4 separate regions of the Homo sapiens genome follow, and all the other regions are reported to be linked to region 4. Evidence: microRNA targets listed by miRTarBase, many of them from high-throughput screens and not tested one by one. Region 4 holds a microRNA gene; each other region holds the end of a gene's coding sequence.

Region 1 (7,793 bases), not on the chromosome of region 4:
CTCCCTGGTTCAAGCGATCCTCCCACCTCAGCCTCCCAAGTAGCTGGGATTATAGGCGCCCACCACCATGCCTGGTTCATTTTTGTATTTTTAGTGGAGCTGTATTATCAACTCATGTTTTTGAGGAATCCTGTATTTCCAATTTTTATTCAAAGCTATTTATTATAATTTAATTTATAATTAAAATTAATTATATTTGCTGCTGCCCCCTTCTTCCACCCTATAATCTGTTAAAACCTATCTAAAATAAATAATTTATCTTGTCATTGGAAGTATGCACTTAGCTTGCAGTTCTTACCTACATGGGAGAATGAGGCCTAGATTCCTAAGTGTGCTTTCTTATTAAACTAAAGTTATAACTATCAATAAAGACCTTTTAAAAATGTATTATTTTAAAAATTATAACACATTATAAACCTTAAGATTTTCATCTTAAAGAAGAGGTGACTTAATTATATATTGTTTATATTTAGCTAATGGCTCAATTTCTTGTAAGGAAGAAAGTTTTTTTGTTGTTTCGTTGTTTTGTTTGTTTGTTGAGACAGAGTCTTGCTCTCTTACCCAGGCTGGAGTGCAGTGGCACAATCATGGTTCACTGTAGCCTCTGTCTCCCGGGCTCAAGCAGTCCTCCCACCTCAGCCTCCCGAGTAGCTGGGACTACAGGTGCCCACCACTGTGCCCGGCTAATTTTTGTATTTTTAGTGGAGCCAGGGTTTTGCCCTGTTTCCCAGACTAGAAAGCTTTCTTAAATTGATTGTATTTGTTGGCTGGGCACTGTGGCTCACACCTGTAATCCCAGCACTTTGGGAGGCCGAGGTGGGAGGATCACTTGAGCCCAGGAATGCAAGACCAGCTTGGGCCACGTGGTGAAACCCTGACTCTAAAAAAATTAGTTGGTCCTGGTGGTATGTGCCTGTAATCCTGTGGGAGGATCGCTTGAGCCTGGGAGGTGGAGCTTGTGGTGAGCCATGATCATACCACTGCACTCCAGCCGGGGTGACAGAGTGAGACTCTGTCCAAAAAAAAAAAGATTGTATTTACAAAGATGCTGACCTCTACCTGTGTAATTACTAGGGAATAGTACCTGTTTTCCGTCCTGTAACCAGAAAAGACTATTGTTGTACTGATTGATGTTATTAAAATAGCCCCATTGTATCACAGTCCTTTGTACATCTTTAAGCTTGAATCCGTGTATCTAGTGTATTGCAGAATTTTCATAAATTTTTTTTTATTTCATAAAACTCATCGAGAATATACATTTTCTTCATGTTGCAAACTGGAAAAATGAGTGAAGTATAGTGAAAGGTAAATTCTAATTTTGCATAAAATTGTCATGGAATTTACTTGTATAAAATTCTCCCCTAATGTGATTGTGACATAAATTCATGTGTGGGAAAGAAGGGGCAGACAGGAAACTGAATGCTTAATTCCTTAAGGAAATAATTTAAAATGTTCAAGGCTTCTTGTTTGACTTTCATTGATAGTCACTATTTCAAGTTCACTTGTGCTTTGAATCAGCAAGTTCCATAAGGCTGCAGGCTTTCCATGACACATGTTTTCTTTTCTCCAAGGAGTCAGAGTATTCATCGAAAAGAAAGCACAGCTAACACTTTTAGGAACAGAAATGGACTATGTTGAAGACAAATTATCCAGTGAGTTTGTGTTCAATAACCCAAACATCAAAGGGACTTGTGGCTGTGGAGAAAGCTTTAATATTTGAAATCTCAGGACTCTTCTGGCCGTAGGTTCCAGGAAAGCTCGTGGAAGCTTTGGGGCTCACTGCAGAAATCATGTGACTGTCACGTGCTGGAAAATAAAGTGATACATCTTGAAAATGAATCCAGTGTGTTGGATTCCAGAAGAAATGATATTTATATTCTCTATAGGGGACAGAAAATGAGAAGCCATCACTCTTTTTGGATCATTTAGGTCTCTTGTATCCTTTGTTTTAGAACCAGTTTCATTAAAGTTGCCTTCCTGGGCACCTGTTTATCCATTTCCTGAACTGTGTGCACTCCTTAGATCGCTATTGATGGCTTGATCATCCCTCAGCATTTCTCCCAACCAGATCGGTGACTCCTAAAATCTGAGACAGGACATCGTGACTGCTGGTAGTAATATGGTGGTGCATTGTTTTTTCCACCCAAACTTAACATAGCCTTTTTATACATTTTTATGAAAAATTTCATTGTCAGCTGCCTCACTGCATACTCTTTAATAGTACCAGGCAAAGATTTTCTTCAACTATAGTACAGATTAGTTCTGAGTGATGGTATCAAAAGGTGAGAAAGACGTCATCCGCCTTTTTTTAATCCATTTCTTTTGCCACCCTATATGTCTGTTCAGAGATGGGCTCTCAAGCTGACTTTGATTCTTTTAGTTGAGAAGTCTCTTAAAGCCATCTAGCCCACCTCCATCAATTCCCTATGTGAGGAAGCAAAACCCCAGGGAAGCCAAAGGGCTCCTGTCCACCCTGACACCACAGGCCGGGGGAGAGTAGGGACTCTACCCCCCTCTCCCCTTGTAGGTGACACATGCTCTGCCCTCTGAGGCAGTCAGCGAAGGCAAATGGTCTGACTTCTTTATGTGGTCAACATTTTGATAGAATTTCTTTATAATTTGATAGAGATTATATTATTTTTATTTTATTTTGAGTGGGAAGAATTTTAAAACCTTTTTATGTCAATTACCATCTTGTTTCTTTCACCTTTGAAACAATGGTTTGTAGCAGAGATGACATTGTAGCAACCCAGAATTATGCTTTTGGAATGTGGTCCTCACTGTACAGGAGAATGTGTAATCTTTTGTTAAAATTCCCAGTGTGCATACATTTTCTGGTTCCTCGGTCCAGTTGCTAAAGTTCTTAGTATTTTAGCCTAACATATTTATCACCAACTTTTCTTTAAAAGTGTTCCTTTTGTCACTTAGTTACTGATTTTCCTGGGTTTGACATAAGTATTCTATGAGATGATATATATGCTTTTTTTGAAAGCTGATTCTCATGAATTCAAGTAGCTGAGTTCCTTTATGTTTCGTTTATTCACTAAAGTAGCTGACACAAAACACACCAAAACCTAGAGCGGTAGTTTTATGTAAATGCTCATGAGTTTGTATCAATAATATAATTGTTGATCCACTTATAATTCGTGCAACACTGTATGTATGTAGAGATTGAGTTGTCAATTAAAAAAAATGTGGCCTCTTTGTGATCATAAAATTGCCTTTTATTATTGAGGGGAGAGGGTTTGGGACAGCAGCTGCTAAAGCCAATAAAAAAATGACTGTCTTTTTTGCCTAGGCTGCCTGTCACCAGGCGTCCTCCCTACCTGACACTGTTTCGTCCAGAGTCCTAGCTGCTGATTCTCCACACAGCCCTGGAGAGACCATCTCAGGTGTCTCTCATCTCCCTGGCTTTGCTAGCCTCTTTTTCCTCCTTGTTCCCCATGAGGGTCATCCATCCCCCAAGCAGGTTCCTCATGTCCTTAGGACGAGAGCATTATCACTACCTGGAGTGCTTTTCCCTCTGTCATCTGAGCTTTTATGTGAACCTCCTCCAAGAAGGTTCTCAGCTGTTCACTCAGGCACAGTAGTGAGCACTGACTCTCCACTAGCCCTGAGCTTTCACAGGTCATCAAAGACAGTCCCAACCTCAGAGAGCTTCAAGTCGGCAAATGAGACACCAGCGAAGAGCATCGATCACCATGGTAAGTGTTGTGAGCAGCTGGTGGTGATGGCATGCTCACTGCATGCCAGGAAGTGTTCTAATAAACATCATCTCAGCAATCGAGAATGCAGGTCTGACTACTGTCTTTTTCATAGATAAACCAAAACACAGCTTAAATAAAATAGCTAAGGTGGCCAAGTCAGAATCGTACCCTGTGTCTATGGCTCCAGATGCTGTGCTCCCAGCTGTTAGGCCATACTGCGTGTCCTGATAGAACCAACGGAGTGCGCTTCTAAAAAGGTAGCCTACAGGTTATGACCCCTGCGCCTAGTTGAAAGAGATTTGGGGAAGAGGGAAGACAGTGAACAGTACTAAAGAGGGTTGAAAAAACACAGAGGGCGTGTTCTCACTCATAGGTGGGAATTGAACAATGAGAACACTTGGACACAGGGCAGGGAACATCACACACCAGGGCCTGTCGTGGGGGAGGGATAGCATTAGGAGATATACCTAATGTAAATGACGAGTTAATGGGTGCAGCACACCAACACGGCACATGTATACATAAGTAACAAACCTGCACGTTGTGCACATGTACCCTAGAACTTAAAGTATAATAAAAAGTAATAATAAAAACACAGTGAAGCTAAGCACTCCGGAGAATGAGGCCCGGAGAGGAGCAGTAAGGCTGGAGGGCAAGGTAGATGCCTGGGGCGTTTGGGCTTTCTGCAAGTTCTGTAGGCCTTGGGGCCACTGAAAGTGTTTAGGGGCACTCATTAGAAAATTGCATTTGGAAGTGTTTCCATGGCCTGGACTAGGCTGGCTGATGAGGACAGGAAGAAGCTACTGCAAAGCCCGCTATAATAGGACCTGAGCAGGGACCCGTGAGAGAAAGGCTTAGGAGGCAGAAAGGATGGTACTCTATCCGTAGCCCAACCTCATCAGCCAGTGTTCTGTGACTCATTTCTATTTGTACAGGCAGTACTTGTACTGTTCATTGGTTTTGGTTCTTGTCTCTTGTACAATATTGAAAGGATCTTGGAGACAGGAACGCAATTGCTTCTTCAGTGTTCGTTTAGCATCGGGCAGGTCAGAATTATTTTTGCAAAATGGCTCCATCCTACGGCCATGTCACACCATGTCATGCAAGCCTTAGCCCTCACCAGGAAGGTTCTGTCTGTTGCACCACATTCATCCACATTCTACTCACAAACACTGGTCATTGTGTTAGGCGATTTGGTAGTGCCCCTGGGTGATGTGTAGGCCAGCAGATCTGTCGCTTAGCAGCAGACTTCAGGCTTTTCATGATCAGTTATAAGCCCACTCTTCCACATCAGGATGCTAAATTGAATGAATCAGGCCATGAGGACAGAGGCCTGCTGTGCTTCATTGTTGCAGGGCGCCTCCCAGCCCTCTGTCACCGGACCCACCAGAATGATTTTTTTTTTCTCAAACAGGAAAGGGTTGGGAACAATCCCTACAAGATCAGATGTCCCTAAGATTTCCAGTATTTCCTAGGTTTCACTCAGCAGGAAATACCTCAAAAAAAAAATGGCCTTTCTTGTCATGTTTTGATACCTGAGAAATCAGGAAATGGAAAAGCCTGTGCTAAGCTGAGCTGTAAGCAACATCAGTGTCTCATTTGAGCCTTAGAGCAGACGTGGCATGGGCCAGACACAGCATCGACCCAGAATAAACCCAAATACAGCTCACCTGAGCTCAGTGCAGGCTGGGAGGCTGGCCTGGAAAGGTGTAGGTTTGGGGTGAGATATGCCTGGATTTGAATCATGGTTCCTGTCATTTTGTAGCCATGTAACCTTCTGTAAAACAGTCTCAGAATTTGGGGGGATGTGATGAGCTAACTACACATAAATGGCATCCTGCTAAGGGTAGACGTTTCATACGTTGTAATTCTTGTCCCTTTTAGCCATTTTCTTGTGCAAAAAGGGATAATATGTTAATGGATTATCAATCAAAGCAAGAGCTTAGGGAAAGAGTTTCAACACATTTAGGGAGTTATTGTCCCATATTCAAATCTGGGGGAAATTTGCTGTATTTCCTTCAAATAAAAGACCACAGTAACTTCTTTGAAAAGAACCATAAATTTCAAATATAAACATTCGGAGAAATTTCATTCTCTTAGTAGCTGATTAACTATAGACAAACCTGCCTTAATTGAGGAGCTGTTTTGAAAGCTCATTCCCCAGTAGGAACTCAATCTCCTGGTCCCAGGTGGGTCTCATCAGACAAGAGATGGAGGAGAGAGGGAGGTGCACCCTAGCCTCAGCCTCTATTGAAATACAGAGCCATGTGGTGGTTACATCACTGTGGACTCCCATCCTCCCTTGCTGCTGTGCAGTGTTCAGGGAAGGCTTCATTTCACACCAACCTTTAGCGGGGCAAGGGCTCTGTACCAGCGGTACTCAGCTTAAAACTAGCCTACTTTGAGGGCCTTGATGGGTTACTGCTTTTACTTCCACTAGCTAGTGATTCCGAAACTTTTCATGATGAAGTGCCCATTTATTGGGCCAGGTGTGTTGGCTCAAGCCTGTAATCCCAGCACTTTGGGAGGCAAAAGTGGGCAGATCACCTGATCCCAGGAGTTCAAGACCAGCCTGGGCAACGTGGTAAAACGCCGTCTCTACAAAAAATACAAAAATTAGCTGGTCATGGTGGTACATGCCTGTAGTCCCCGTTGCTCAGGAGACCAAGGTGAGAGGATCACTTTAGCCCAGGAGGTAGAGGTTGCAGTGAGCCAAGATCGTACTACTGCACTCCAGCCTGGATGACAGAGCAAGACCCTGTCTCAAAAAAAAAAAGAATAAAAAATAAAGTACTCATTTTTTGTTCTCCATGGATTCTATGTCTTGAAGCAGTCCTCAAACTTTAAGGTGCAAATAAGTCACCTGGGGGTCTTGTTAAAAAGCAGATTCTTGGCCGGGCGCAGTAGGTAGCTCACGCCTGTAATCCAGCACTTTGGGAGGCTGAGGCGAGTGGATCACTTGAGGTCAGGAGTTCGAGACCAGCCTGGCCAACATGGTGAAACCCCATCTCTACTAAAAATACACAAAAATTAGCCAGACATAGTGGTGGGCGCCTCTAGTCCCAGCTACTCAGGAGGCTGAGGCAGGAGAATCACTTGAACCTGGGAGGTGGGGAGGTTGCAGTGACATGAGATGGCACCACTGCATTCCAGCCTGGGTGACAGAGCAAAACTGTCTCAAAAAAAAAAAAAAAGCAGATTCTGTAACAAAGGTCCAGGGCAGAGCCTGAGATTCTGCATTAGTAGCAAAGGCCCAAGTGAAGCCAGTGCTGTTGCTCTGCAGAACACCTTTGAATGGCAGGCTTTTGAAATATTTTCTCATTGGAAGAATCTTCTGTATTTATTAAATTCTGCTTAAAATTATTAACTTTCTTGTATATCCATGTTCATAACAGCATTATTCACAATAGCCAAAAGGTAGGAACAACCCAGGTGTCCATTGACAGGGGACAGGGGGTGAGAAATTTATTTCATGGACACAGATTCAGGTGGAAAAGATGAAAAAGCTCTGGAGATGGAAGGCAGTGCAGGTGGCACAACAATGTGAATGTACTGAATGCCACAGAACTGTGTACCTAAAACGGCTTAACACGGTAAGCTTCATGTTATGGATATGTTGCCACGGTGTTCACAAGTTATTAACTCAATCAGACTATTTAAATGCCCAGTAGATTGCATTCTGGGGAAATGGCTGTTTCAGGAAAATTTTCAGTGATTGCCACAGGGACCTCCCATGGGTGGGGAATGGAGTCTGGAGCACGGCTGCATGGCTCATGGAGAGAATTTGCACAGCCAGGTAGCCCCTGGTCCACTTCTACCCATATCTGGCCAGGTGCAAAGAGCATAGCTGTACCTTCTATTATCTCTCTCAATTTCTTATTTGCACTTTGCCCATGTCTATAGAAGGAAAAACTTGACTGATTAAAAATTACATTCACGGCACCTGTAGTCCCAGCTACTCAAGAGGCTGAGGCAGGAGAATGGCGTGAACCCGGGAGGCGGAGCTTGCAGTGAGCTGAGATCGTGCCACTGCACTCCAGCCTGGGCGACAGAGTGAGACTCCATCTCAAAAAAAAAAAAAAATTA
Region 2 (7,921 bases), not on the chromosome of region 4:
TTTTGTGTTTGTGCGTGCGTGTGTTTCCAAGAGAGCCAAACATGGTGAAAAACCAATCTTAACTTCACCTAAGTTATCTAAAGAAGCAAATTTCACCCCTAGGCTGAAGCTCAAACAGGAGCGAGGAGAAGCTCCGAAAGATCAGTTCGTAAGCGGTGGCCCTCAAGCGCCCGGGACGCTCTACGTTTTTACCAATGTGGAATGTGGAAAAGAGGTTACAGGCTGGAGCTGAGAAAACAGTCAAGCTACTCGCGACAATATTCCTGAGCAGTGAAACGGGTGAACAGAGAGCGAGCAAGCAGGGGCTGAGAATCAGTGAGAGGAAAAATCAAGGAACAAAACCGGAGAGTCTGGTCCAGCATTAAGAAAACGGAGCAAAGGAAGAGGGTGAAACGCGAGGGGAGGGAAGACCGAGAGTCGGCAGAGACCGTGGTGCCGCGAGGTTCAGAGCAGGGCTGGGTCCAGGAAGAGTCAGACCTCCGCAGCCCAGCGAGCTTCCCATTTCTGGCTAAAGCCAGCGAAGAAAACGGCCCTGGGGAGCAGACAATGAGCCACCGCCCCAGGAGCTGCGGCTCCCAGCACGCAGGTGGCGGCTCCCCGGCCCCGCGCGGGGCAGGTCGGCCGTCCCGGGCCGCTCCCGCCCGCCAGGCCACGGAGAAGGAAGGAGGAGGAAGAGACCCGGCCTGCGTCCCGCGCCGGCCGGCCTGTGTGCACTTACCCCGGGCAAGGCAAGGTCCCCGCCCCAGCGAGGCGCCTCGGTCAGAGCTCCCGGCGGGCTGCGGAGCCGCCCCGGGCTAGCGCGCGGTGCGGGGAGGGGAGGGGAGGGAAGGGGAAGCGGGGCGGGAAGAGACGCCGCGCTGGAGCAGCCGCTGCTACCGCTAGGCCCAGCGGCGGCGGAGTCCTGCGCACGCCAGGGAGGGGAGGGGAGGGAGCCTTCGGCAATGGCGACGGCCCGGGCCGGAGGGGAAGCGGAACAACCGCCGCCGCTGCGCGTGGCCACAACCCTGGGGGAGGAAGACGGCGGGGAGCGGGGCGGGGCGGGGCCAGAACCCAGAACCCCTCCCGCCCCGAAGCCGGAGCTCCCCGGGGCGGAGACGAGCGCCACCTCCCATGGGCAGGCCCGCGCGGGGGCCGCTGGGAGTAGTAGTTCGGTGATAGACGTTGCTTTTATTCCTTGGGTAGTCTTTGTATTGAGAGGAGCAGCCAGTCCCTCATTTAATTCAGCATTGTCTCCAAGCAGGTCTCTGCCGACGGAAGACGCTGACAGACGATTGCTGTTATACACATCTGCTCCGCGACATTTGTTTCTGGGAATTCATCCGTTATCCATTTTGCTTTTTTGCTTACAAATTCTTAACTAAAATTTTGCTGCTAAATTAAGTATCACCTCCTTGCAAATTAAGACTTCCCTATTTTATCCACGGAGGAGTTCATCAATGTTTCACTTATTCTACAAATATTTGAGTGTCTGATATGGACTAGACACTGTTAAGCATCAGAAATACAAGGGTGGTTCAGGTGCGGTGGCTCACGCCTGTAATCCCAGCACTTTGGGAGGCTGAGGCAGGCGGATCACCTGAGGTCGGGAGTTCGAGACCAGCCTGGCCAACACGATGAAACCCCGTTTCTACTAAAAATACAAAAATTAGCTGGGCATGGTGGCACGCATCTGTAGTCCCAGCTACTCGGGAGACTAAGGCAGGAGAATCGCTTGAACCCAGGAGGAGGAGGCTGCAGTGAGCCAAGATCGGGCCACTGCACTTCAGCGTGACAGAGTCGTCATGCCTCAAAAACAAAACAAAAAACACAAAAGAAATGCAAGGGTGAACACGATTCACCAAGCCTTTGTGGAGCTTATATGAGGACGCAGTAATTAAAGTAGTCACACCTGGTATAAGAAAAAACTTGGCGAGGTTACTTTGGATAGGGTGGTCGGAGAAGGCCTCGTTAAGGAGGTGACACTTAAGGCAAGAACAGAAAGAGACAGCAATAAGAAGCACCCAGAGAAAAGCAATACAGGCAGGAGAAGAAAGAAAAGGGCTTGCTACGGTCAGTTAAGAAGGCCTGTGTAGCTGGGGCCTAGAACAAGAAGGCGGTACTATTAAGAAAACACTACAGCAGACAAGATTCAGGTCATGAAAGATCCTGAATGCCATGGTAAAAAGTCTATATTACAAAAAACCATTAAAAGGCTTTTTTAAGCAGGAAAGCGATGTTACCTGGCTTACACTTTAAGATCACTAGACTGCAATGTGGATAATGGAGTATAGAGATGCAAGAATAGAAGGGAAATAAAGTAGGAAGGCAGTGGAAAGAAAGAGGAATTGTGCTTCTCTATCAATGTAGAGCAAAAAACTCAATTGATGCAGTGGGTACAGGAGAGAAAGGAATCAAGGAGCAACATGGCACAGTAAGAGATAACCTGAAAAATGCTCTGATTATTAAACACACAGAAACACTGGATAAATAAGACATCCTTTCAAAGGCATAACTTGCAAGAATGAAAATAGAATGTTTCTGACAGTCTTCCAAATTTCACACTCAACCTGAAGAAGGGGCAGGACACCAGAGTGGTAAGCAGGGCAGTGAAGCCATGGTTGTGTTGAGGGCACCTACTTATCTCAGAAATCTCTAGAGTTTTAATAGGTGCACAGGAAACTAAAGACAAGGACTTGGGCCTATACAAGAAGTCAGGACTGTGATCCTGCATAGGACTGGAAATTCAAGGCGCTATACCCTCCAAGAACAGACTGGGGGGAAAAAAAACCCTATGCTAGCCCAGGGAGACACACAGGACATTTGTTTACTTTGGCCTGCAGTGGGCTTGCAGGGCAGAAGAAAATTTTCCCTTTAGAATTAATAACCCTTTAGAATTTTCCCTCACTAAGGTTTTAAAGTTCAAATTTGTCAAGAAAGTGGTCCCAGGCTGGAGTTCTGGGGGGCCTGGAAGAAACAAATACAAATCCTGACTGCACAGGTGTACCCTCAACCTCGGTCTCAAAGGATTTCACAGATAAACAGGATTTCCGAAGCCAAACATGAGCACCCGAAATACAATACACCTGAGGAAATAAGCAGCGATGAGTGAGTCAATAGAAACTACAAAGAACATAATGAAACCCACACAGACTTTAGCTGCTGGAATTGATGGCTACAGAATATACAGTACGCCTATTTAAATGATTAAAGAAAGTAAGACAGGAGCTAGAAAACACGAGCAAGAAACAAGATGCTTTTTTTTTTTAACGACCAAACAGCTTTGAAAATGAAATAAGTAGGCCAGGCGCGGTGGCTCACACCTGTAATCCCAGCAGTTTGGGAGGCCGAGGTGGGCAGATCACCCGAGGTCAGGAGTTCGAGACCAGCCTGGCCAACATGGTGAAACCCCAGTCTCTACTAAAAATGCAAAAATTAGCCAGGCGTGGTGGTGGGCACCTGTAGTCCCACCTACTCAGGAGGCTGAGGCAGGAGAATCACTTGAACCTGGGAGGTGGAGGTTGCAGTAAGCCAAGAACATGCCATTGCACTCCAGCCTGGGCAACAAGAGCAAAACTCCGTCTCAAAACAAAAACAACAACAACAAAAGAATTAAGTAGAATTTCTAGAAACAAAGAATAACTGAAACCAAAGCCAATGTTTGGTTAAATAGCAGATTACACACAATTGAAGAGAAAATTAGTAAACTGGAAGACAGACCAAAAGAAATTACTGAGAACAGCCTAGAGACAGGAAAAATGAAAGCAAGCTTAAGAGACATGGGGATAGATTGTTAAGGTCTCTACCATACTCCTAATGAGAATTCCAGGAGAGAAAAGAGAAAAACCAAGAGAGGCAGATAATGATGAGATAATGGCTGAAAAATTTCCAGAATTGATTAAAGACAGGAATCTTCAGATTCAGGAAGCAAACTGAATACCAAGCAGGATAAGTAAAGAAATTTCAAACACATGAAAATGAAACCGCAGAATACCAGAGATAAAGCAACCAGAGAGAAAAGACATTCTGTACAAACAACTATTACATTCATAGCAGATTTCACAACAGCAAAACGGGTGCCAGTCAATAATGGTATATTTTCAAAGTACCAAGAGAAAATAACCAAGCTTAGAAGTGTACAGCTACCGGCTGGGCACAGTGGCTCACACCTGTAATCCCAGCACTTTAGGAGGCTGAGGTGGGCAGATCACCTGAGATCAGGAGTTCAAGACCAGCCTGGCCAACAACGGCAAAACCCTGTCTCTGCTAAAAATATAAAAAATAGCAGGGTGTGGTGGTGTGCGCCTGTAGTCCCAGCTACTTGGTAGGCTGAGGCAGGAGAATCACTTGAACCCAGGAAGCAGAGGTTGCAGTGAGCAGGGATCACACCACTGCACTCCAGCCTGGACGACAGAGCAAGACTCTGTCTCAAAAAAAAAAAAAAAAAAAAAAGTGTACAACTACCTAAATTATCCATCAGATGAGTGAGGATGAAATAAATATATCATCAAACATAAACAAGCTACCAACAGAGACACACTAAAGGAACTCCTTAAAAGGTATATTTCTTTCTTTTTCTTTCCCTTTTTTTTTTTTTTTTGTGACGGAGTCTCACTCTGTCGCCCAGGCTGGGGTGCAGTGGTACGATCTCGGCTCACTGCAACCTCTGCCTCCCGGGTTCAAGTGATTCTCCTGCCTCGGCCTCCCGAGTAGCTGGGATTACAGCCGCATGCCACCACTCCCGGCTAATTTTTTGTATTTTTAGTAGAGATGGGGTTTCACCATGTTGGCCATGTTTACAAGATAATACAAACAAAACCAGAAATGTTCTGTTATACTAAAAGTGATGTCATCTGCAACCATTTATCTAAGCAAGAAGAGTTATATCAAAGTTTTCTTCATTCACATTTTTATTACACTTCTGAATATTTGTATAAGTGAGTAAATGGCTGAACCACATTCCAAGCCACAATCTTAAATATTTTAAATACTGATGAAACCTGGTTGTGATGAGCAAAAACAAAAACATTCTGTATACACATACCCCCACATACTCTTAAGATGTTAAACAGTACCGTGTTCCCTCCCCGTCTAACCATATTCCAAAACGTTGCCTGTCAATCTAACCATATCCCAAAACAATGCCTGAATTGTAGCTGACATATATAATTCCATTTCAGTGTCATATTATTAATCCCATAGTGAAAGAAATGTTTCTAAAACATGAAATTCTTTCTTACGAGAAAGCATGAAATAGGTATGAAACTATACTGGGTTGAAATTTTAGTCATTTTAAAGGTCACTGTTTCTGCTTTATGGCACTGGGTTACCTTTTCCAATATTTAAGTCTCAAATACACGTTTAAAAAGAACTGTTAGGACTAGTCAGGTCATACATGTCAAATTATACAAGATGTAGTCCCATGAAAACACCAAAATACTTTAGGAAATGGAGCAGTGATGGCATATACAAAGGTTTATCACATCTCAATACTCTACATAAAATAAATAATGCCAACACACCCTGGTTTGATGTCTTCTGTTTTGGAACATGCTTGCCCTAAGGTTTTATTTACTTTTTTTTTTTTTTTTTTTTTTTTTTTTTTGAGACAGAGTCTCACTCTGTCGCCCAGGCTGGAGTGCAGTGGCGTGATCTCGGCTCACTGCAAGCTCTGCCTTCCGGGTTCATGCCATTCTCCTGCCTCAGCCTCCCGAGTAGCTGGGACTACAGGTATGCACCACCATACCCGGCTCATTTTTTTGTATTTTTAGTAGAGATGGGGTTTCACCGTGTTAGCCAGGATGGTCTCAATCTCCTGACCTCGTGATCTGCCCGTCTCGGCCTCCCAAAGTGCTGGGATTATAGGCGTAAGCCACCGCGCCCGGCCAAGGTTTTATTTTTTAATTAGCCTATGGCACTTACTTTATTTTCTAATTTTTTTCCAATCATAACAGTAAATGAAGAACCTTTGTTTAAAAAAATTACCTGATGATTCCAATTATTGTTCATGTACAACTTTATTTAAAATGGCAATCTGAGTTGTCTTCCTGACATACTCTGTACCAAATCTTAGTACTCAGTTTCATCAAGTCCTTTGCCAATTCATATATTCAAAAGAAACATGATAAAATGTAAAAGGAGAATGGAGTGCGTTAAGGAATAATCAATAATTTAAGATTATCAATAATTTTGATATTAATATTAATTTCTTAGCTGTCCTACTTTAATGATTTTCATTGAAACTCTGGCACATCTTTAATAGTCTCATGACATTACTATTTAAATAAACATGATTTTCATCCAAATTATTTTATTCTTCTTTTTTGTTTTTCCTTTGGAGACAGGGTCTCGTTCTGTCGCCCAGGCTGTAGTGCAGTGGTGCGATCTTGGCTCTCTGGAACCTCCGCCTCCCAGGTTCAAGCGATCCTCCCGCCTCACCCTTCCAATTAGCTGGGACTACAGATGCCCACCACCAGCCCCAGCTAACTTTTGTATTTTTAGTAGAGACAGGGTTTCACCAAGCTGGTCTCAAACTCTTGACCTCTGGTGATCCGCCCACCTCGGCCTCCCAAAGTGCTGGGATTACAGGTGTGAGCCACTGTGCCTGGCCTATTTTATTCTTATTTATAACGGTTTTCTCAATTTGTAGCTTAAATTGAAAGTACTTGCAAAATGAGAATAATTTGTCTCTACTACATAAAGAAATAATTTTTCTACCCCAAATGAAGATAAAGTCACTTCTCACAAAATAAACATTAATTTAGCAGAATTAAGTTTCCCCTTATGGCATCTGATGCTTGAGGATTACCAAGGATCCATGCAATAGAGCACTACATTTTGGAATTAGCTGAGAATGATCCCAAATTTCCTCTAGTAAACATAATTTTGGCCACAAATGAAGACAAAAGATAAAAGTAATTAATTCTAGAAGAACACCTCTCGTCAGAAATTAATAGATCTTATTTAGGTTTCTAGGAAGCATTTAACTACATAAAACTTATAGGGAAAAATGGCCATATTTGAAAACTGCTACAAGGATCAATGTAGAGCACAGGATTGTAATGAGCAGAGTCACAGAACATACTAGAGAGGTATGTACAGTCAGTCCCACTGGAACTTGTAGAATCACATTCTTATATACCTATGGAGAGAGAGAGAGAAGTTAGACATTGAAAATGCATGTCATGGGCCCGGTGTGGTAGCTCATGCCTGTAATCCCAGCACTTCGGGAGGCCAAGGCGGGCAGATCGCTTGAGGTCAGGAGTTCAAAACCAGCCTGGCCAACATCTCTACTAAACCATCTCTACTAAAAATACAAAAATTAGCCAGGTGTGGTGGCAGGTGCCTGTAGTCCCAGCTACTAGGGAGGCTAAGACAGAACAATCACTTGAACCCGGGAGGCGGAGGTTTGCAGTGAGCTGAGATCGTGCCACTGTACTCCAGCCTGGGAGACAGAGGAAGACTCTGTCTCAAATAAATAAATAAATAAATAAAAATAGTAAAATAAAATAAATGTCATAAGGTGAGACCACTATTTCTTTGATTTTTAATTGGATATTTTTATTTCCTTTTTCTTTTAAATATATTTCAGCCAGTGCTACACTACATGTAATATTATTGGTTTGAATGACTTTTGAATCTAACATTTCATTTAATGTTACAGAATCAGACTCAATTCCCACAATAATTTGTTAAATCTCATTAGTTCTGATTTTTCTGCTTTTTACATAAAGTATATTATTTTAAGAAAAGCTATATCCCAGTGTCACCTCTGTAATCAATATAAACATTTACTTCCTCTTACCATGTTTCAAATTAGAATACAGAATTCTCTCTAAATTGAAGACTTAGAGGAAAAACATTAAAACAACAAAAAACTAAATTATTCTTTCATTCCCATTTGCCTTTCTCTCCCCAGATAGCTTTTAAAGCCTTGTTATTCCCA
Region 3 (7,921 bases), not on the chromosome of region 4:
CTCTCTCTCTTCTCTCCCTCATCTCTCCTTCCTTCTCTTTCCCATTTATTCATTCCCTCCCTACCATTCATTCCTTCCCATTCATTCCCTTCTTTCCTCCCTCCCTCCCTCCCTCTCCCTCCCTCCTCCCTCTCCCTCCCTTCCTCCCTCTCCCTCCCTTCCTCCCTTCCTCTTTTCCTCCCTTCCATCCTTTCTTCCACTCAGTTGAATTCTATGAACCAATTTTAACCACAAGAGAACATCATCATCCAAGTTAATCACGACAAACCTCAAATAGAACCCAACTACCAGAACTCAGAGAGGGACAACCGCTCATGGAGAGTTTGGTGGTGGTTCTCCTGGGGACTCAGGAGAGGGCCTGTGCCTGAGCTGCATGCTGAGCACCCTTAAGTCAATCACAGTTCCGGAAAAATGATTGCACTTGATCTATACCTTTTACTCTCTCTGCCTCTTTCTTCACTTTTTCACTGTTGAGCTGTTCATAATTTCCTCTGAAAAGGGAGAGTTAGGAGGCATTCAGAGGATCTGAAGGGTAAACCCATTAGTCATTCTGTTTCTAAGCACCTGTAATGTCAAATATAATTCAGGGAAAGGCTGACTCCGACTTCTCTGGTTTTCAAGTTTATCATCTCTGCTCTCTGTATCTCCTCTTGCTGAATATACACAAGAGTCAGCTGAGAACTTGATAGGCTCACTCAATGCATGTTCAATCCCACAGAAGGTACATAGTACATGTCTGAGTCTCTCATTGTAATCTGCATTTTGTCTGATGATAGCAACACAAATGTACTCTGCATTGTGCAATAGATATGTGTGCAAATTAATTTTTCTTGGCAAATTATTTGTTTGCGAATGATTTACCTAGCATTTAAGAAATTTTAGTGAGATAGCAAAAGTCACCAAAAAATGTAACCATCACAAGTTGGTGTTTTCTTTCATAGGCTTTTCCTAAATTGAGAAACACTGGCCTCAGGTGTTCCAGTACGACACAGAAGGATGTTAGAACTGTGTGTGCTTGTGGGTGTGTGTCTTGTGGGTGTGTGTTGTGTGTGTTTGTGGATGCATATCTCTGTGTCATGCATGTGTGTGTTTATGTGTGTGGGTGTGTGTGTTGGGGGAACAGCCATGGTTGTTCATATCGAGGAATAATTTCCAAGTGTATGTTGTTAATGAATAGACTTCTAACAGGATCAGCTGCATTTAACCCTAAATAATGGATATTTATTGCAAGTGTCCTGTACCATTAGCATAACAGAGCAGAACCCTTTGTTCTTCTTAAGTCCTGTGCCTTTGCCACAGCCTTTTGCACAATCTTAAAAGCAGGCTGACTCAGAATTGACCACCATCTGCTGTTCCTGACTTGGAATCACCATGAGATTTGTGCAGCCAAACAACCAGCGATCTGATCTGCCTGTCCAATTAGTTAAATAAACTGAAAGGGCTTTGCTGACAAAGTAGTGATAAATGCTCCAATGATAATTATAGAACAGTGTTTTCACATCGCATCCATTGGACATGTTTAATTCTGCGCCAGGCATCACCCATGTAATTTACAAGATGCAGAGAATTAAAGAGTGATGAGGGGGCCATGGATGAGTGGACTCAGCTGCCATGGACACTGGGCGCAGTGCAGCCCAGCCCTCTGTATTCCATGTCCCCAAGGGCAGCACGCTGAGGGGCAGGGTACACATTTGCTGAGGTAATGAAGGAAGGCAGAGCCCAGCGCCCCCTGTCGCCTCCAGCAGGTGCAGGTGCAGAAACTCAGCCACAAGGTACCTTCTTTTTAGCAACTCTTTGAAAGGGGAGATGGATAAATGTAATGACCTTGAAAGCAAGTTCTGCCAGGTATTTCGAGTTGTCGTGAAATATATTAAAACAAGTTCACAATCAATGTGTTTAAGAGTTTATTAGGATAGGCACATAACAGAAAGCTCAAAGGACAACAAAGCTGCACCTTCCTAAAGGCTGACCCTCAAAGCACCATTTTGTTAGAACTCAGAGGAGAAGCTCGATCTCTGAGCCTTCCCTCCTCACAGTTTGGGAAACATGCACAGGATGAAGGTAAATCCTGCATAGAAATCTTGTAATTCCAGAATTAGTCAAACAAATTTGAAATACACACATTTAAAAATACTTACATTCTCATTTAGCATTCATGAAGTGATTACTGACATTTACAATTACATCTGACATCACAGAGCAAGCCTTTGCAGGGATCTAATTCAAGCTTAAGCCAAATCTATGCAAAGAACTTCAGCTCAGAGGAATAGTGGGCAAAATCTGCTGAAAAGAACTGCTTGCCACCTTGCAGATAAGAGCAACAGCACAATAAAGGGATTCCAGAGCTTCTACCTAAAATAGAAGGGCATTATCTACAAGAACAGACCAAAACACAATTTATTTTTAAACAAGCCCTTCAGTGAGTATTTGTCTCAGGAATCTAGTATGAAAATAGTGTCTTTGATTAGTGAATATATGGAGAATTCGGATTATCATCTCTATTTTTAGTTGAGAAAATGCACAAACCATATAGATTTAAACCATGGGTTTTGCAGCCGAAGTAGAGACAGATGTTTTCTGGGATCATATCTCAGATTCCCAAGCTAAAGCTATTGTTCAAGGTGATGGAAATATGTAGGGGGCATTAAACCATTTTGCAGCTGCTAGAAAGCTGTGTTTTCCTGTTTTCCTGATTTAGACAATGGAGAAGCTAAGAAGAGAAATAATAGGAAAGGCTTTCCTATGTTAGTTTTAAAAAGACTGTGTTATTTTTAATTCAATTTTTTTTTGTCAAATCTCATCTCTGTTCTCCTAGTTTTCACAGAAATATTTACAGGAATAAAGGTTGAAACAAAAGTACCTAATGATCATCTCCATCCATCGAAAGATTGCTCAGGGATAAGACACTCAAACAAGGGCTTGTGATGAGGATGGAAAAGACAAAGCAACTTGAAGAGAAAAAAAAATTCTTTTAAACTCAGTTCATCCTGCAAAATGGACATAACACATGCATATAAAGGTTTGACTTTTTAATTCCACTTTTTTGCCTGATCGCAGGGAAGATGGCATGTGGCTGGCCCTTCCTGAAGCCTTGCTCCTCCACCACTGGCTAACAGACAGGCCTCCAGGTGGCCTTGCAAGGCCGACAGTGACCGCAGCCCACTTCCCCACATCCTTAATCAGAGCCTCATGCAGTTCATCCCCACATTACCCAAACATAACGTCGTAGTGCTACACGTAGATGTGTTGCATCATGATGCTATGGCAATGACGATGACGCTTAGGTGTGTGGGCCACCGAAGGCAGAGACCAGATGTGGTTGGTCTTGCCTGGAAGCCAAGCTGTTGAGCAGGGGTGGAGTCCCTCTACAGAGGATGCTCACCAAGTTCTAATGCATTGTCGATAACTGTCCTGCCCTGGTTTTTCTGCATTCCTCAGATTATCTGTGGGAATTGTCCTCCTGCATCCTTTCTCAAATGACAAAGAAGAAAGAAAGAGCAGTGATGGCACCTGAAATTCAGGAATGAGTAGGCATGGCGAGCTGGGTGTGTGAGATGTTCTCTCTTTACATTGTCTGCTTTGAGATGTGGGATGAGGGGAGGGAGAGAGTTGGTCCTGAATATATTCAGTTTTTTCCAAGAGTCTCCCAGAATTATTGACCTATTTGGACAACAAATCTTCATTGTCTTGGTGTCCATCTCCAAGTGAAAACTTCCCCCGTCCCCATGGCCCTGGCTTGTTCTGCTGCTGAACAGGTCACCTGGGCAGAAACACTGTGTCTAGCGAGAAGTTAGCAGGTGGCAGGGTGCACCTCTCCCCATACTGTGACCCTTGGATTCCCCACTGTGCCACGCCCGAGCAAGCTGGGGCCCCTCAGGACAAGGACGATTTGTTAATGGCCTCTTGGCCGGTGGGCATTTGTTTACCCACTACTGTAGCCCCAAGATCCCCCAAACAAGAATTTCCATGCTTCAAAGTAACAGCAAAAATAAACAGGAGAATAAAGCACGTGTTTGAGCCCAGTGGTTTCCATCAGATGCACAACCTGAGCTGTCTGGTTGGGTTGCTGGCTCTCCCCCCGTGGTGGGAGTGGTGTGCAAGAGAAAGCACCACCCAGCAGGAGAGGGACCCAGCCTGCCAGGGAAGGTTTTGAGGAACTGGATTCTTTATCACCCATTTCTCCCCTTGTGGGTTCCACAGAGGGGTTCCATGACCTCCCTGTTGTTGAGAACAGGGCTGCATTCAGAGAACAGACGATGGGCCTGGGCTGTGAGAGCAATCAGAACACTGTGAAAATAGGAGGGCTCGTTGGATCCCAGGAATCATACACAGACTGCGTTGGGGCTGTGGGAAGCCAAGGACAGAAATGTCTCCTTCACCCCAAATGATAAGGGCAAGGATTTTCAAGGCCCAGAGGGAGAAATGTTGCATTTGCATTTATTTAAGTGCTGATGTTGGTCAGCAGCGCATCCAGCCATGTCTTTAGAATCCTCTGAATGGCCAGACAGATGGCTGCTCTCCACACCACAGACTGCCCAGCTTCACACATCACCTAGAGTCTCGTGGCCAAGGAAGTTTTGCCAAATGGACACAGCCTTTGTCTCCCTTAAGTGTTAAACACCAGAGTTCCAACTGAAAACTGGAGACCATGAGATGACTTTAAAAAGAAGTTCCAAATGCCCCATCGAGCCGCACAAAACCTCCATCTTTCCTTTCACTTCCCCTGCCCCTTTAGTTTTCTATTAAAAACAATCTGAACCATAGCATCTATATTTCAAAACTGGCAAGAGTATTAACCCTGCACCTTGTGGCCCTTCAACCACTCCAGAGTGTCACCTCAGAGACCGATGCATTGCTAAGGCAAAACCAGAAACACCCTTTCTCTGAGGCTTTGGGGCCTTGGAGGGAGACACATTTCCTCTGTCTGTTCTCCTGCACAGTGGTGGTAAAAAGCCCACAGGAGACATGAGGCCTCCCAGAGATACTCAGGTAACTTCTAGTGACTCTGACCATCGGTGACCCCCAGGAATGTGTTCCAGTGCCCCAGGCAGAATGGTGCCGTGTCTCTGTGTGTGTGTGTGTGTGTGTGTGTGTGTGTGTGAGAGAGAGAGAGAGAGAGAAAGAGTGCACACTATCGACTACATTATCATAGGGAGAAATATTTGCAAATGTAACTTTTAAAATGAGGATATAATTTAAATGGCTTTGAGCAGTTTTTGCTGTAAAAATGATTTTAGTTAGTCATCTCTTTCCCTCTTCCTTCCCTCCTTACCCCCAATTTTAAGGAAAAGAGACAGAGAACAAAAGTTCCTTAAGCAAACTGCCTGACTAGCTCCCTACTTGGTGTGTGCGCCACCCACACTTCAGGATTTAAAATCTCAGGATGCTGCATCAACTGTGGACTATGAACTGTGCTAAAATGCTTTAAAATGACAACTTTCAAAACACAGTGCATCATCTCCCGTTCACACATCCTTTAGGAAACAGCCTGATGGAACTTTCTGCAGGGCTTCCTCTGTCTGAGCTCGGAGCACTGGCATTCCGGGCAGGATGAAGTGGAGGCGGGGCCACAGGCAGGGTGTCTGAGGCCTGCCCTGGCTCAAAGACAGGTTGTCCTTGAATTTGTTTCCTTGTTAGTGTTGATCACATCCGTAGTCAAGTGTGTGGTAACCTCAGTACATTTGGATGAATTAATTCAAGTATCTGTGAACAAATCCCTGGCCTCTCTCGCCCTAGCCCCGTAGATTATGTGACTTCACAAACACCTGTAATGCACTTCAAGCAACTTTTCTCATATTTTTCAAGCTTCCTTTGCAAATAAACCCAAGGCTATTAGAAATGTAAGAACTAAAGAGGCACTTCCTGCCTCCTTGCCACCTAAGAGGTTAATTGCACTTCTGGCCATTCTGGAGGATGTCAACAGTATCACATTTAGCAAGACTTGTGCTGGCGAAATGGAGGAATGCAAATGTAAAGAAATGTTTCCAGTCCGAACATGTTCCCTTTGACCAAAAAACCAGATCTTCTTACCTAATTGAATAATTAATTGATTTAGTTTTCATCCTAGGAAGAGAAACAAATCATTTCAATCCTAATCAGCATGAGCAACTCACCTTTTCCTCTTAGATGGTGGAAGTGAGCAGAGAAGATATTCAGGGGAGCCCCTTAGCCCCGGCCTCCTCACACCCTGATCCGGAATTGGTCACATTGGAATTTGAAAAGGGAGGGGGAGTAACAATCATTATAGAGTCACGAAATCCCCACCGTGGCACGCCAACACACAGCTTCCACTTCAGGAACATCAAACACCCGTAGAAAATACCTGCATGTTCCAAGGGGCCTTTAAGGAGGAGACTTACAATTGTTTGCTAAGATTCCAGTCCAGTCTTTCAAAAAAATGTGGGTGCCCCTTTGGAATGGGGAGTTCAAAGCTCTGAGGATGGTGGCTGGTGACTCTAGTGTCTCTAGGGCCACCTCACTTTCAGCAGTCTGTCCCAGGTGTCGGACTATGGGAAACAAAACAGACAGCGTTGGAAGCCATGGCGCCTCTGTGCCTGCACGTCCCCACCTTGGGAGAGAGCCCCACGTGCGGCCGTGCTGCAGATGGGCAGTATGCTCTAAGGGGGCCCGAGTGCCTGGCGTGGGGGGAGGTTGAGGGGTCAGCTGCAAGGACCAGGGTGTGTCTGCCCACAGGAAACCTGGGCCTGCTCTTGCTGCCACCTCTTTGTACTGTAGTCAGTGCCCCCATGCCTGCCCATCCCCTCCCCCGGTCACTCAGGGCCCCCTTTACCTGTACTGGTTCTCCATGGCCCTGCTCTCAGCTCGCTCTGGAACCCAGGAGTAACTGTCTGCCGCATTCTGGGGCTTCTTCTCCTTCTTCTCCTCCCTCTTCGCTCTCCGCTTGCGATAGACCAGTAGCCCCAGAGCCAGGGCCAGCAGGAGTAGGATGGCCACCACGGTGCCTAGGATGTAGAATAAAAGCAGCTTTTGCCCGTCAGTGCCATCGTTGTTTTGTGTGGCCACGGAGGAGTCCCCACCTGCAGGCTCCTGGGGGCCAGAGGCAGCTGTGGCGTGATGGATGCTGGGCTCCCTCCAGACGCCTGGGGACCCACTGGGGGCCAGCATCTTGAGTGGGGCAGATGTGATGGGGGCGTCAGATGACAGCGAAGGTCTACTTGTGGTGGGTGTAGCCTTGGGGGTGCCCTCGGGGCCCCTTGTGGGACTGGCTGTTGCAGCACGGGGCACGGTGCTCCCTTCTTTCTCTCCTTTGTCCTCCTCATCGGGGGGCCCAGATGGTGGTCCCAGAGACACAGGCCCCATGGTGCAAGAGACCCCATTTGGGGCCAGCACCCAGCCTGGCAGGCAGCCACAGTGGAAGGACCCTTGTGTGTTGAAGCACAAGCTGTCGCAGAGGGGGCCCCCCGGGCCCACACACTCATCCACGTCCTGGCACTGAGTCCCGTCCTCCCCGGCCAGGACGTAGCCCTCCTCACAGGAGCAGTGAAATGAGCCATCTGTGTTGGTGCAGCCCTGGGCGCAAGGCGAGCGACCCAGAGCACACTCATCCACATCCTGACAGGCCCCCTCTCCAGGACCGCCCGGCTCATAGCCAACCCAGCATTCGCAGCGGAAGCCCCCAGGGGTGTTGACACACTCCTGGGCACAGGGGGAGTCCTGGCATTCATCCACGTCCACACAGTCCAGCTGACTCGAGTCCAGCTGGTACCCTTGGGGGCAGCGGCACGTGTAGTTTTTCCCATGGGGTCCCAGGACGCACGTGGCCCCCCCACGACATGGGCTGGAGCTGCAAGGGTTTCGAGAGGCACAGGTCACCAGGTCATCCAGCAGCCGGAATCCTGGTCGGCAGCCGCAGAGGAAGGAGCCATCCCCCCCTTCAAAGCAGTCCTGGTGGCAGCCCCCA
Region 4 (7,921 bases):
AACCCCAATGAGATACCATCTTAAACCAGTCGGAACAGCCATTATTAAAAACTAAAAAAATAAGAGATGCTGGTGAGGTTGTAAAGAAAAGGGAATGCTTATAAACTGTTGGGGGCAATGTGAGTTGGGTTAACCATTATGGAAAGCAGTTTGATGATTTCTGAAAGAACTTAAAGCAGAATTACCATTTGATCCAGCAATCCCATGATTGGGTATATACCCAAAGGAATATAAATTATTCTACCAGAAGGAAACATGGATGTGAATGTTCATCAGAGCACTATTCACAATTGCAAAGACATGGAATCAACCTAAATGCCCATCGGTGGTAGAATGGATAAGGAAAATAGGATACATATACCACGGAATACTATGCAGACATGAAAAGGAACAAGACCATGTCCTTTGCAGCAACGTGGATAAAGCTGGAGGCCATTAACTTAAGTGAACTAATGCAAGAACAGAAAACCAAATACCACGTGTCTCTCTTATATAGCAGGAATATGCATTGAGTGCACAGGGACACAAAGAAGAGAACAATAGACATCAGAGCCTACTTGAGAGTAGAGGGTTGGAGGAGGGTGATGATTGAAAAATTACCTATTAAGTACTGTACTTATTACCAGGATGATGAAATACATCATTGAACACTTGATAAACTCCTACTGATATGGCTAATGCTTTTCTTCTCCATACTGTAAAGATCCTCAGAAGTCAGTTGCTTTTACCTAGCTGTGCTAACAGTAAACCTTCAGAGCCTTGTTTCAGGGTTGTATCATTTTTTTTTCTTCTAGATATGATCTGATTTGCAGAGAGTTTGATCATCATGACATTCCACAAAGCCCCAGTCTTGTCCACTACATTGATGACATTGAGTTTATTGAATCTGATGTGTAAGAGGTAGCAATTACTATGACATAGTTTCGTAAGGTAAATTCTAGCCAGAATCTGGGCAGTAATTCCACAAAAATGCATGGATCCACCTCTTCATTAAAGTTTCGTGGTTTCAAATGTCTGGAATATGTCTATACTTGCCTCGAAGGTAGCAAATATATTTTTTCATTTTGCACTGTCACAAAAAAAATGTAAAAGCTCAATGCATGGCAGGGTTTTCAAGATTTTGGAGACAACATACCACAGTTGAGAGTGCTTCTTCAGCATATTTACCAAATCATATATTAAGGCTGCCTATATCTTTGAGAGCTATATAGTAAGAGGTGACTTTTCAATAAATACAGGCCAAAGTACAAGATGCTCTTCTCCATGGCCTAATGATTCAGTAAATCCATTGATATTCAAAGTATCTGTGGTAAATAGAGATGCTTTATAGGCCATTCTGATAGACACTAATAGAAGAACCACAAGGACAACTTCTAGGATTTTGGAGTAAATCAATGTTCTCTTCTGAAAGTAAATTTCCTACTTCTTGAGAATTAGCTTCTGACTTACTATTAGCCCTTAGAAGAGAACAAACTGAAGATGACATCAGGTGACCATACAGTCTGCATTTTCCAAGTCAAACGCATCTATTAATAAAGTTGGATATGTGCAGCACCAATCTATCATTGAGTAAAAATGATATGTAAGAAAATGAGTTTGGGCAGGGCTAGGGGATAGAGTGTCTTTTGACACTGCTTCTTTCTGCATTGCTTCCCTTCCAACCATTCACACCTACGGCTTTATGGGAGTTTCATTCAACTAGTTGACTAGAAATAAAACACTTCAGTCTGTTTTACAGTTTGTTCTTCAGGATATGCTGGTATTGCCAATGCAGTTTCTATTTCCTTAATAGTTATTAATTGATACTTATTCTTAAGGAACAGATTATATAAGCAACCTTGATTCCGTAATTTTCTAACATACTATTCTTGGTTTTATTTCTGTCATATAAACTATGTATTTTTCCAACAGCTTAAAGCCAAGTTTATCTTTTAATTTCTCTATAAGTTTCAATCACATTAATCCAATTGTCAACATTGTATCAGTTAATTCTTTTAGGTTATTATTTTTATAAGGTCTTCCACAAATTTAAAAGCATGAATATTTTGCTTTTTTTAAAAAAAATAAACTTAAATTATTCTGTTTTTGACTTATTGTAATGCCTGAGTATAGTATTGAGAAAAATATTACTTACTTTTTCTTTAATTTATTTGGAATCATTCCAATATTTTATTATAAACATTAGATTTCTACTGCTTATCCTTTGCATGCAAACATACAAAGTCTAGGGGATTTTTTAGCCACTTTTTGCCACTTAACAACAACAAAAACAAAACAAAGAAATCTTAGTGCTTTTCTTTTTTTCATACAATTGTATATAGCTACAATTTTTTAATGTTCTACCACTTAGTAGGTTAAAATAAATTTATAGAAAAATAAATGGGAGATCAAATATTCATACTTTAACATAAGAACTATCAAGATACTAGAAGGCAAGAGTGATCTTATACATAAATAAGAGTTATATTCCACAAATCATAAAGGAAATATTGATATATTTAACAACATTTTAAAGGGGCTACACTTACATCATAAACAAAGTAAATGAAGAAATAAATAATGGGGAAATGGGATTTTTAACTTATAAGACAACTTTGTGATTAATTTTATATTCTAAATGTATAAAAATGCCATACAAATCAATACCAATGGAGTAAAGAAGCTTAAAATATAATAAAGTCAGACCTAAAAAACTATACAAATTGCTTATAAAGATGTAATAATATTTAGAATCACTTGTCAGATACATATGAAGTAAAATATGCAATTTTACACTGAGATTGGATTGGAAAATCTCTATTTTTTGTATTATATAGTTTTGTAAGCTATTGCATGGGAAATAAGATTTCTCATTTAACTAGATAATATAAATTAGAGGAGAACTTTGCAATCATTATTTGTTTTAAATATTACATGTTCTTGCAGATAATAAATAATCACTTAGGAATTTTGCCTACAATTTTGCATCTCAATAGAAAGCTATAAGAACACAGATATTCTTGATGCATTATTGGTAAAAGCAGAAGAGTGGTGGAAAACAATTGTATACCCACATTTAATGCAAACATAATAAATTTATGACTTATCTCATTATGTTATTTCCCAATTGGATTTTTTCATAAGTTTCTTCTGATAAACACAAAGGATACCAGGAATTGACTCTATATTACTGCTGTCCAATAGATCGTTCAATAAGGAAGAAAATCTTGTTTATTTGTGCTTTCCAATATGGTAGCCACAAGCCACATGAAGCTATTGAGTACTTAAAATTGACTATTTCTACTGAGATATAATTTTTTGTTTTAGAGATGGGGGTCTCAAATTCTTGCCTCAATCTCCTGAGTTGCTGAGACTCAGGATTCCTTCATGCCAGCTCAGGAATTAAATTTACCTATTAATCAATATAAAGTAAAAGTGGATAACCACATCGGGCTCAAGAATATCTTATTGGGCAGTGCAGTTTGAGGTAAATGTTGCTTCTTTAGCCAGTGTATTAGTTCATTCTCACATTGCTATAAAAAAATGCCTGAGACTGGGTAATTTATTAAAAAAAAGAGATTTAATTGGCTTATGGTTGTGAAGGTTGTATGTAGGAAGTATGACAGCATCTGCTTGGTTTCTAGGGAGTCCTTAGGAAATTTACAACCATGGTGGGTGGCAAACAAGGAGTCAGCACTTCACATGGCTGAAGCAGAAGGAAGAGAGAGAGGGGAGTGGTGCCACACACTTTTAAAACAACCAGACTTTGTGATAACTGACTCACTATCAGAGAACGGCACTGAGGCAGTGGTGCCTAACCATTTTTGAGAACTCTACCCTCATGATCCAGTCACTTCCCAATGGACACCCCTCTCTAAGACTGGGGATTACAATTTGACATGAGATTTGGTAAACCTTGGTGACTAATTAGAGTCTGGCTGATATGGTTTGACACAGAGCTAAATCATATGAACCAAACTCTAATTAGTCAATAATTTCTGTTAAAAATTATCCCTCAAATATCTTCCAAATCAGCCTTCTCTTTCTTATACTGATGAATGCTTCTTTTAATTAAATTTTTATTTTTTTCACCTGTATTACTGTACCATCTTTCTAAATGAACTCTTGTCATTTAAAACCAACCCTAAATTCATCTCCTGAGATGTCTGTAAAATGTAGATCTTCGTCACTTCTATATTTGCAAACTTTCAGCTCCCCCAAGTTGTTAATATTTTGGCCCCAGATTCTCCCTTTAGCCTCACATGGCTGCCAAATCTTCAAAACTCATTTACCTTCCAGACATAAAGCTTCTTCTAAAATTCTCTTTATAAAACATCATGCATTTTCATGTTTCCAAAGTTTTGCACATTTGTATTCATCTTTCTGGAATGCTTTCCTCAATGTTTTCACTTTTGTTTCTTCATTTATTCTTCAAAGACTAAGCTCACTTGTAACCTGCTGATAATTAACTATCCCCAGTTCTACAAGCATATTTGTTAGGGATGTCTCTTCACTGTTTATATAATATCCAGTCTTACTACCCCAGTGATAACTAATGATTCGACGAATAAATATGGTCAAAACTAAAAGCTCAGTAGCCAAGAACTAACAACGTAGAATAAATATTCTTCAATGTAAAAGGCAGAGTAGGAGAGAATCCCTGAAAATGGCAAGAATTGCTAGACATTAAATAAGACAGTAAATTTGATGGTTTGAGTTATTTTTTTCTTGTGATCGTCTTATTTTCACAGCCTATCAACATTTCTTCTTAGAAAAAAAGTAATGTTAGGATAAAAAATTTTAAGTAGGAGTGATTATAGCTATTGGGGACATAATTAATGAGATACCCCTCTTCTACTAGTCTATCTTTGAGTCATGCCTTTCTACTTATAATAGTAAGCTGACATCAGCTATAATAGGGAAATTATCTTCTCTCCTGGTTCCGCTAGTGTCTGTAGAAAAGATGCAAAATTTCACCTACTATAGACATATCCCAAAGACATACCCAATGCCGCCTACATGTTTCTCTAAAAACCCATCTTTTACTCATTGTCACTACATTTCCAGTCCACCTACCAAGTCTGCATTAACTAATTAAACAAACAAGCACTGTTTGAGAGTCTACAGAATTACAAGAAACCTAAGCATTCACAATGTTTCTAGTTCATCAGGAAGCTCAGATTTTGATCTATCTTTGGTTGTTAATTTTTCTGTCACTCCAATCATATTATTTGTTCTGTTGTAGTGCATCTATTGCAGGTCCCATTGAAACTCAAGTATGGCTTATCACACTGATCTTCAAACCCAATGCATATATCAGTAATCATACAAATAATAATAATGTTGACACATTACATTTATTACATATTTACTATGTGTAATTTACTATTCTGAGCACTCCTTTACGTTATGTGGTTTGGAGATTTATAGTACTCACTAGTAACTTACTCAAGGGATATTGAAAGAGTCATACTGAGTAAATGCTATTAAGTATTCTATGATACCAGAAACAACCTTAGTATTGCAACCTTTCAAATATAAACATATGTGAGTCAATCTGAGCTGTGGGTGGACACACTCTAGTGTAACCCCCAGGAAGTCACCTATTGTATAATACCATACCCTTGAATGTGGGCAAAACTGGAACTTGCATTTAATGGAATATGACAAAACGTGCTGGGGTATCTCTGCAGTGATTAGATTACAATACACTTATAAGACTTCATTTTAATAAATTGTTGTATAGCTCTTCTCTTGCTGACCTTAAAGAACAAAACAGAGAGGTTGTGAAAATTTCTACAGAAAGGGCTTCATGGCAGGGAAGTGCAGGCAGCCTCTTGGACATGAGCATGTACTTGGAATCCTAACCTATGGAAACTGAAAAAATGAATAGGTATTGTTTTAAGTCACTAAGTTTGTGACAATTTGTTGTGTAGAAATAGAAAATTAATGTAAGGGCTATCCTAAAAGGAAAAAGAATTTAACTTTGGGCCTTTTAACATATTCAGTCTCTTTAATAAAAGGTGGCTGGTTTTACTGTTACAAATTCTCAAATGTATATTTTCACAATTTGTAAGTATATTGATAATTATGTATTATACATTTAGACTCTCAATGAATTTTAATCAAACTGAAAATGTTTTCTCACTTCCCTTCAATAATAAATAGTTGTTTATTTGAAAATGTCTTCTACCATGTCTTAATTTACAGTACCATCAAATATATAATTGAAGGGTAAGAAAATTCTTAAATTATACAATATTAACCAACACATCCCATTTAACAGAACATGGCAATAATGTTTATCTCTTTTTGTTTAATTTAAAAAGTGTTTGTGAGAAGATGGCATAATGGAGAGCAATGAAATTACTCAGAAAGTGGTTTCTGTGAGACTTTAGTTTATGTTAACATCTTATTTTTCCCTCAGGTGTCAAAGATGTAATGTTAATATTAAAATTCTCATTGTCTTAAAGTTTCCTGAATAATAAACATTCAGGATGGAAACAAGTTGGAAAAGACAAACCACACTCCTTAATAATATATAATCTATAATAGGGAGCAGCTTAGTCATTGGCTTAAATTAAATATTCATTCATTGATAAAATATTTCTGTTCCTATTTATATCATAAAATAATCAATACTCTTTAAAATTTTTCTTAATGTGTGATATGGTTTGACTGTGTCCCCACCCAAATCTCATCTTGAATTGTAGTTCCCATAATCCCCACATATCATGGAGGAACCCAATGTTAGGTAATTGAATCATGGAGGCAGTTACCCCCATACTGTTCTCATGATAGGAAGTTCTCATGAGATCTGATGGTTTTCTTAGGGGCTTTTCCCCCTTTGGCTCAGCACTTCTCCTTCCTGCTATCATATGAAGAACATGTGTGCTTCCTCTTCCATCATAATTGTAAGTTTCCCAAGGCCTCCCAAGCCATGTGGAACTGTGAGTCAATTAAACCTCTTTTCTTTATGAATTACCCAGTATTGGGTATGTCTTTATTAGCAGCACGAGAACAGACTAATATAGTAAATTGGTAACACAGAGAGTGGGTGCTGTTATAAGGATGATTGAAAATGTGGAAGCAGTTTTGGAACTGGACAATAGACAGAGGTTGAAATAGTTTGGAGGAATCAGAAGAAGACAAGAAAATGTGGGAAAATTTGGAATGTCCAAGAGACATGGAGGTCTCAGAAGACAGGAAGATGTGGGAAAGTTTGGAACTTCCTAGAGACTTGTTGAATGGCTTTGACCAAAATGCTGATAGTGATAAAGACAATGAAGTCTAGGTTTAAGGGGTTTCAGATGGAGATGACAAACTTGTTGGGAACTGAAGTAAAGGCTACCTTGCTATATTCTAGCAAAGATACTGGTGGCAGTTTGCCTCTGCCCTACAGGTCTGCAAAACTTTAAACTTGAGAGAGATGATTTAGGGTATCTGTTGGAATAAATTTTAAGCAGCAAAGCATTCAAGAGGAAGCAGACCATAAAAGTTTGGAAAATTTGCCACCTGATGATGCAACAGATAAGAAAAACTCATTTTCTGGGAAGAAATTCAAGACTGCTTCAGAAATTTGCATAAATAACAGGGAGCCAAATGTAAATCACCAAGACAATGGTGAAAATGTCTCCAGGGCATATCAGAGACCCTTCCTGGCAGCACCTCCCATCACAGGCTTAGAGGCCTAGGAGAAAAAAATGGTTCTGTGGTCTGGGTCCAGGACCCCTGCTCTGTGCAGCCTCGGGACATAGTGTCCTGCATCCCAGCTGCTTTAGCTCCAGCTGTGGCTAAATCGGGCCAAGATACAACTCAAGCCATTGCTTCAGAGGGTGCAAGCCCCAAGCCTTCGTGGTTTCCATGTGATGTTGAGCCTACTGGTGCACAGAAGTCAAGAATTAATGTTTGGGAACATCCACCTGGATTTCAGAGGATGTAT

Evidence for each region. The annotated mature microRNA hsa-miR-5007-5p reads UAGAGUCUGGCUGAUAUGGUUU and lies in region 4 at 3,908-3,929, shown strand. An mRNA with a match to its seed (bases 2 to 7 or 8) in the 3' UTR can be bound and repressed. Matches are read on the target gene's strand: a 7mer-m8 pairs with bases 2 to 8, a 7mer-A1 pairs with bases 2 to 7 and ends in A, and an 8mer does both.
Region 1: the mRNA of ISCA1 is a reported target of hsa-miR-5007-5p. Seed matches in the 3' UTR shown: 7mer-A1 at 2,502-2,508.
Region 2: the mRNA of PIGX is a reported target of hsa-miR-5007-5p. Seed matches in the 3' UTR shown: 7mer-m8 at 5,587-5,593.
Region 3: the mRNA of CD93 is a reported target of hsa-miR-5007-5p. Seed matches in the 3' UTR shown: 7mer-A1 at 6,245-6,251, 8mer at 4,554-4,561 and 7mer-m8 at 3,639-3,645.

Annotation. Positions count from the first base shown.
Region 1 is chr9:86,259,970-86,267,762 of GRCh38, reverse strand. It overlaps ISCA1 (iron-sulfur cluster assembly 1), which reads left to right. Exons shown (of 4, transcript NM_030940.4): 4 at 1,572-3,217. The coding sequence ends at 1,720. Among named protein-coding and RNA genes, the nearest start is that of C9orf153, 4.2 kb to the right of the region's middle.
Region 2 is chr3:196,732,955-196,740,875 of GRCh38, reverse strand. PIGX (phosphatidylinositol glycan anchor biosynthesis class X) reads right to left here. Exons shown (of 6, transcript NM_017861.4): 6 at 4,869-7,117. The coding sequence ends at 6,974. PAK2 (p21 (RAC1) activated kinase 2) reads right to left here and starts at 1,019. Exons shown (of 15, transcript NM_002577.4): 1 at 719-1,019. RefSeq lists a silencer at 439-1,228.
Region 3 is chr20:23,077,469-23,085,389 of GRCh38, forward strand. It overlaps CD93 (CD93 molecule), which reads right to left. Exons shown (of 2, transcript NM_012072.4): 1 at 6,791-7,921; 2 at 1,892-6,506. The coding sequence ends at 6,482. Among named protein-coding and RNA genes, the nearest start is that of CD93, 4.9 kb to the right of the region's middle.
Region 4 is chr13:55,170,567-55,178,487 of GRCh38, forward strand. It overlaps MIR5007 (microRNA 5007), which reads left to right and starts at 3,888; the gene lies at 3,888-3,982. All of the region lies in intron 4 of LINC02335 (long intergenic non-protein coding RNA 2335), which reads left to right.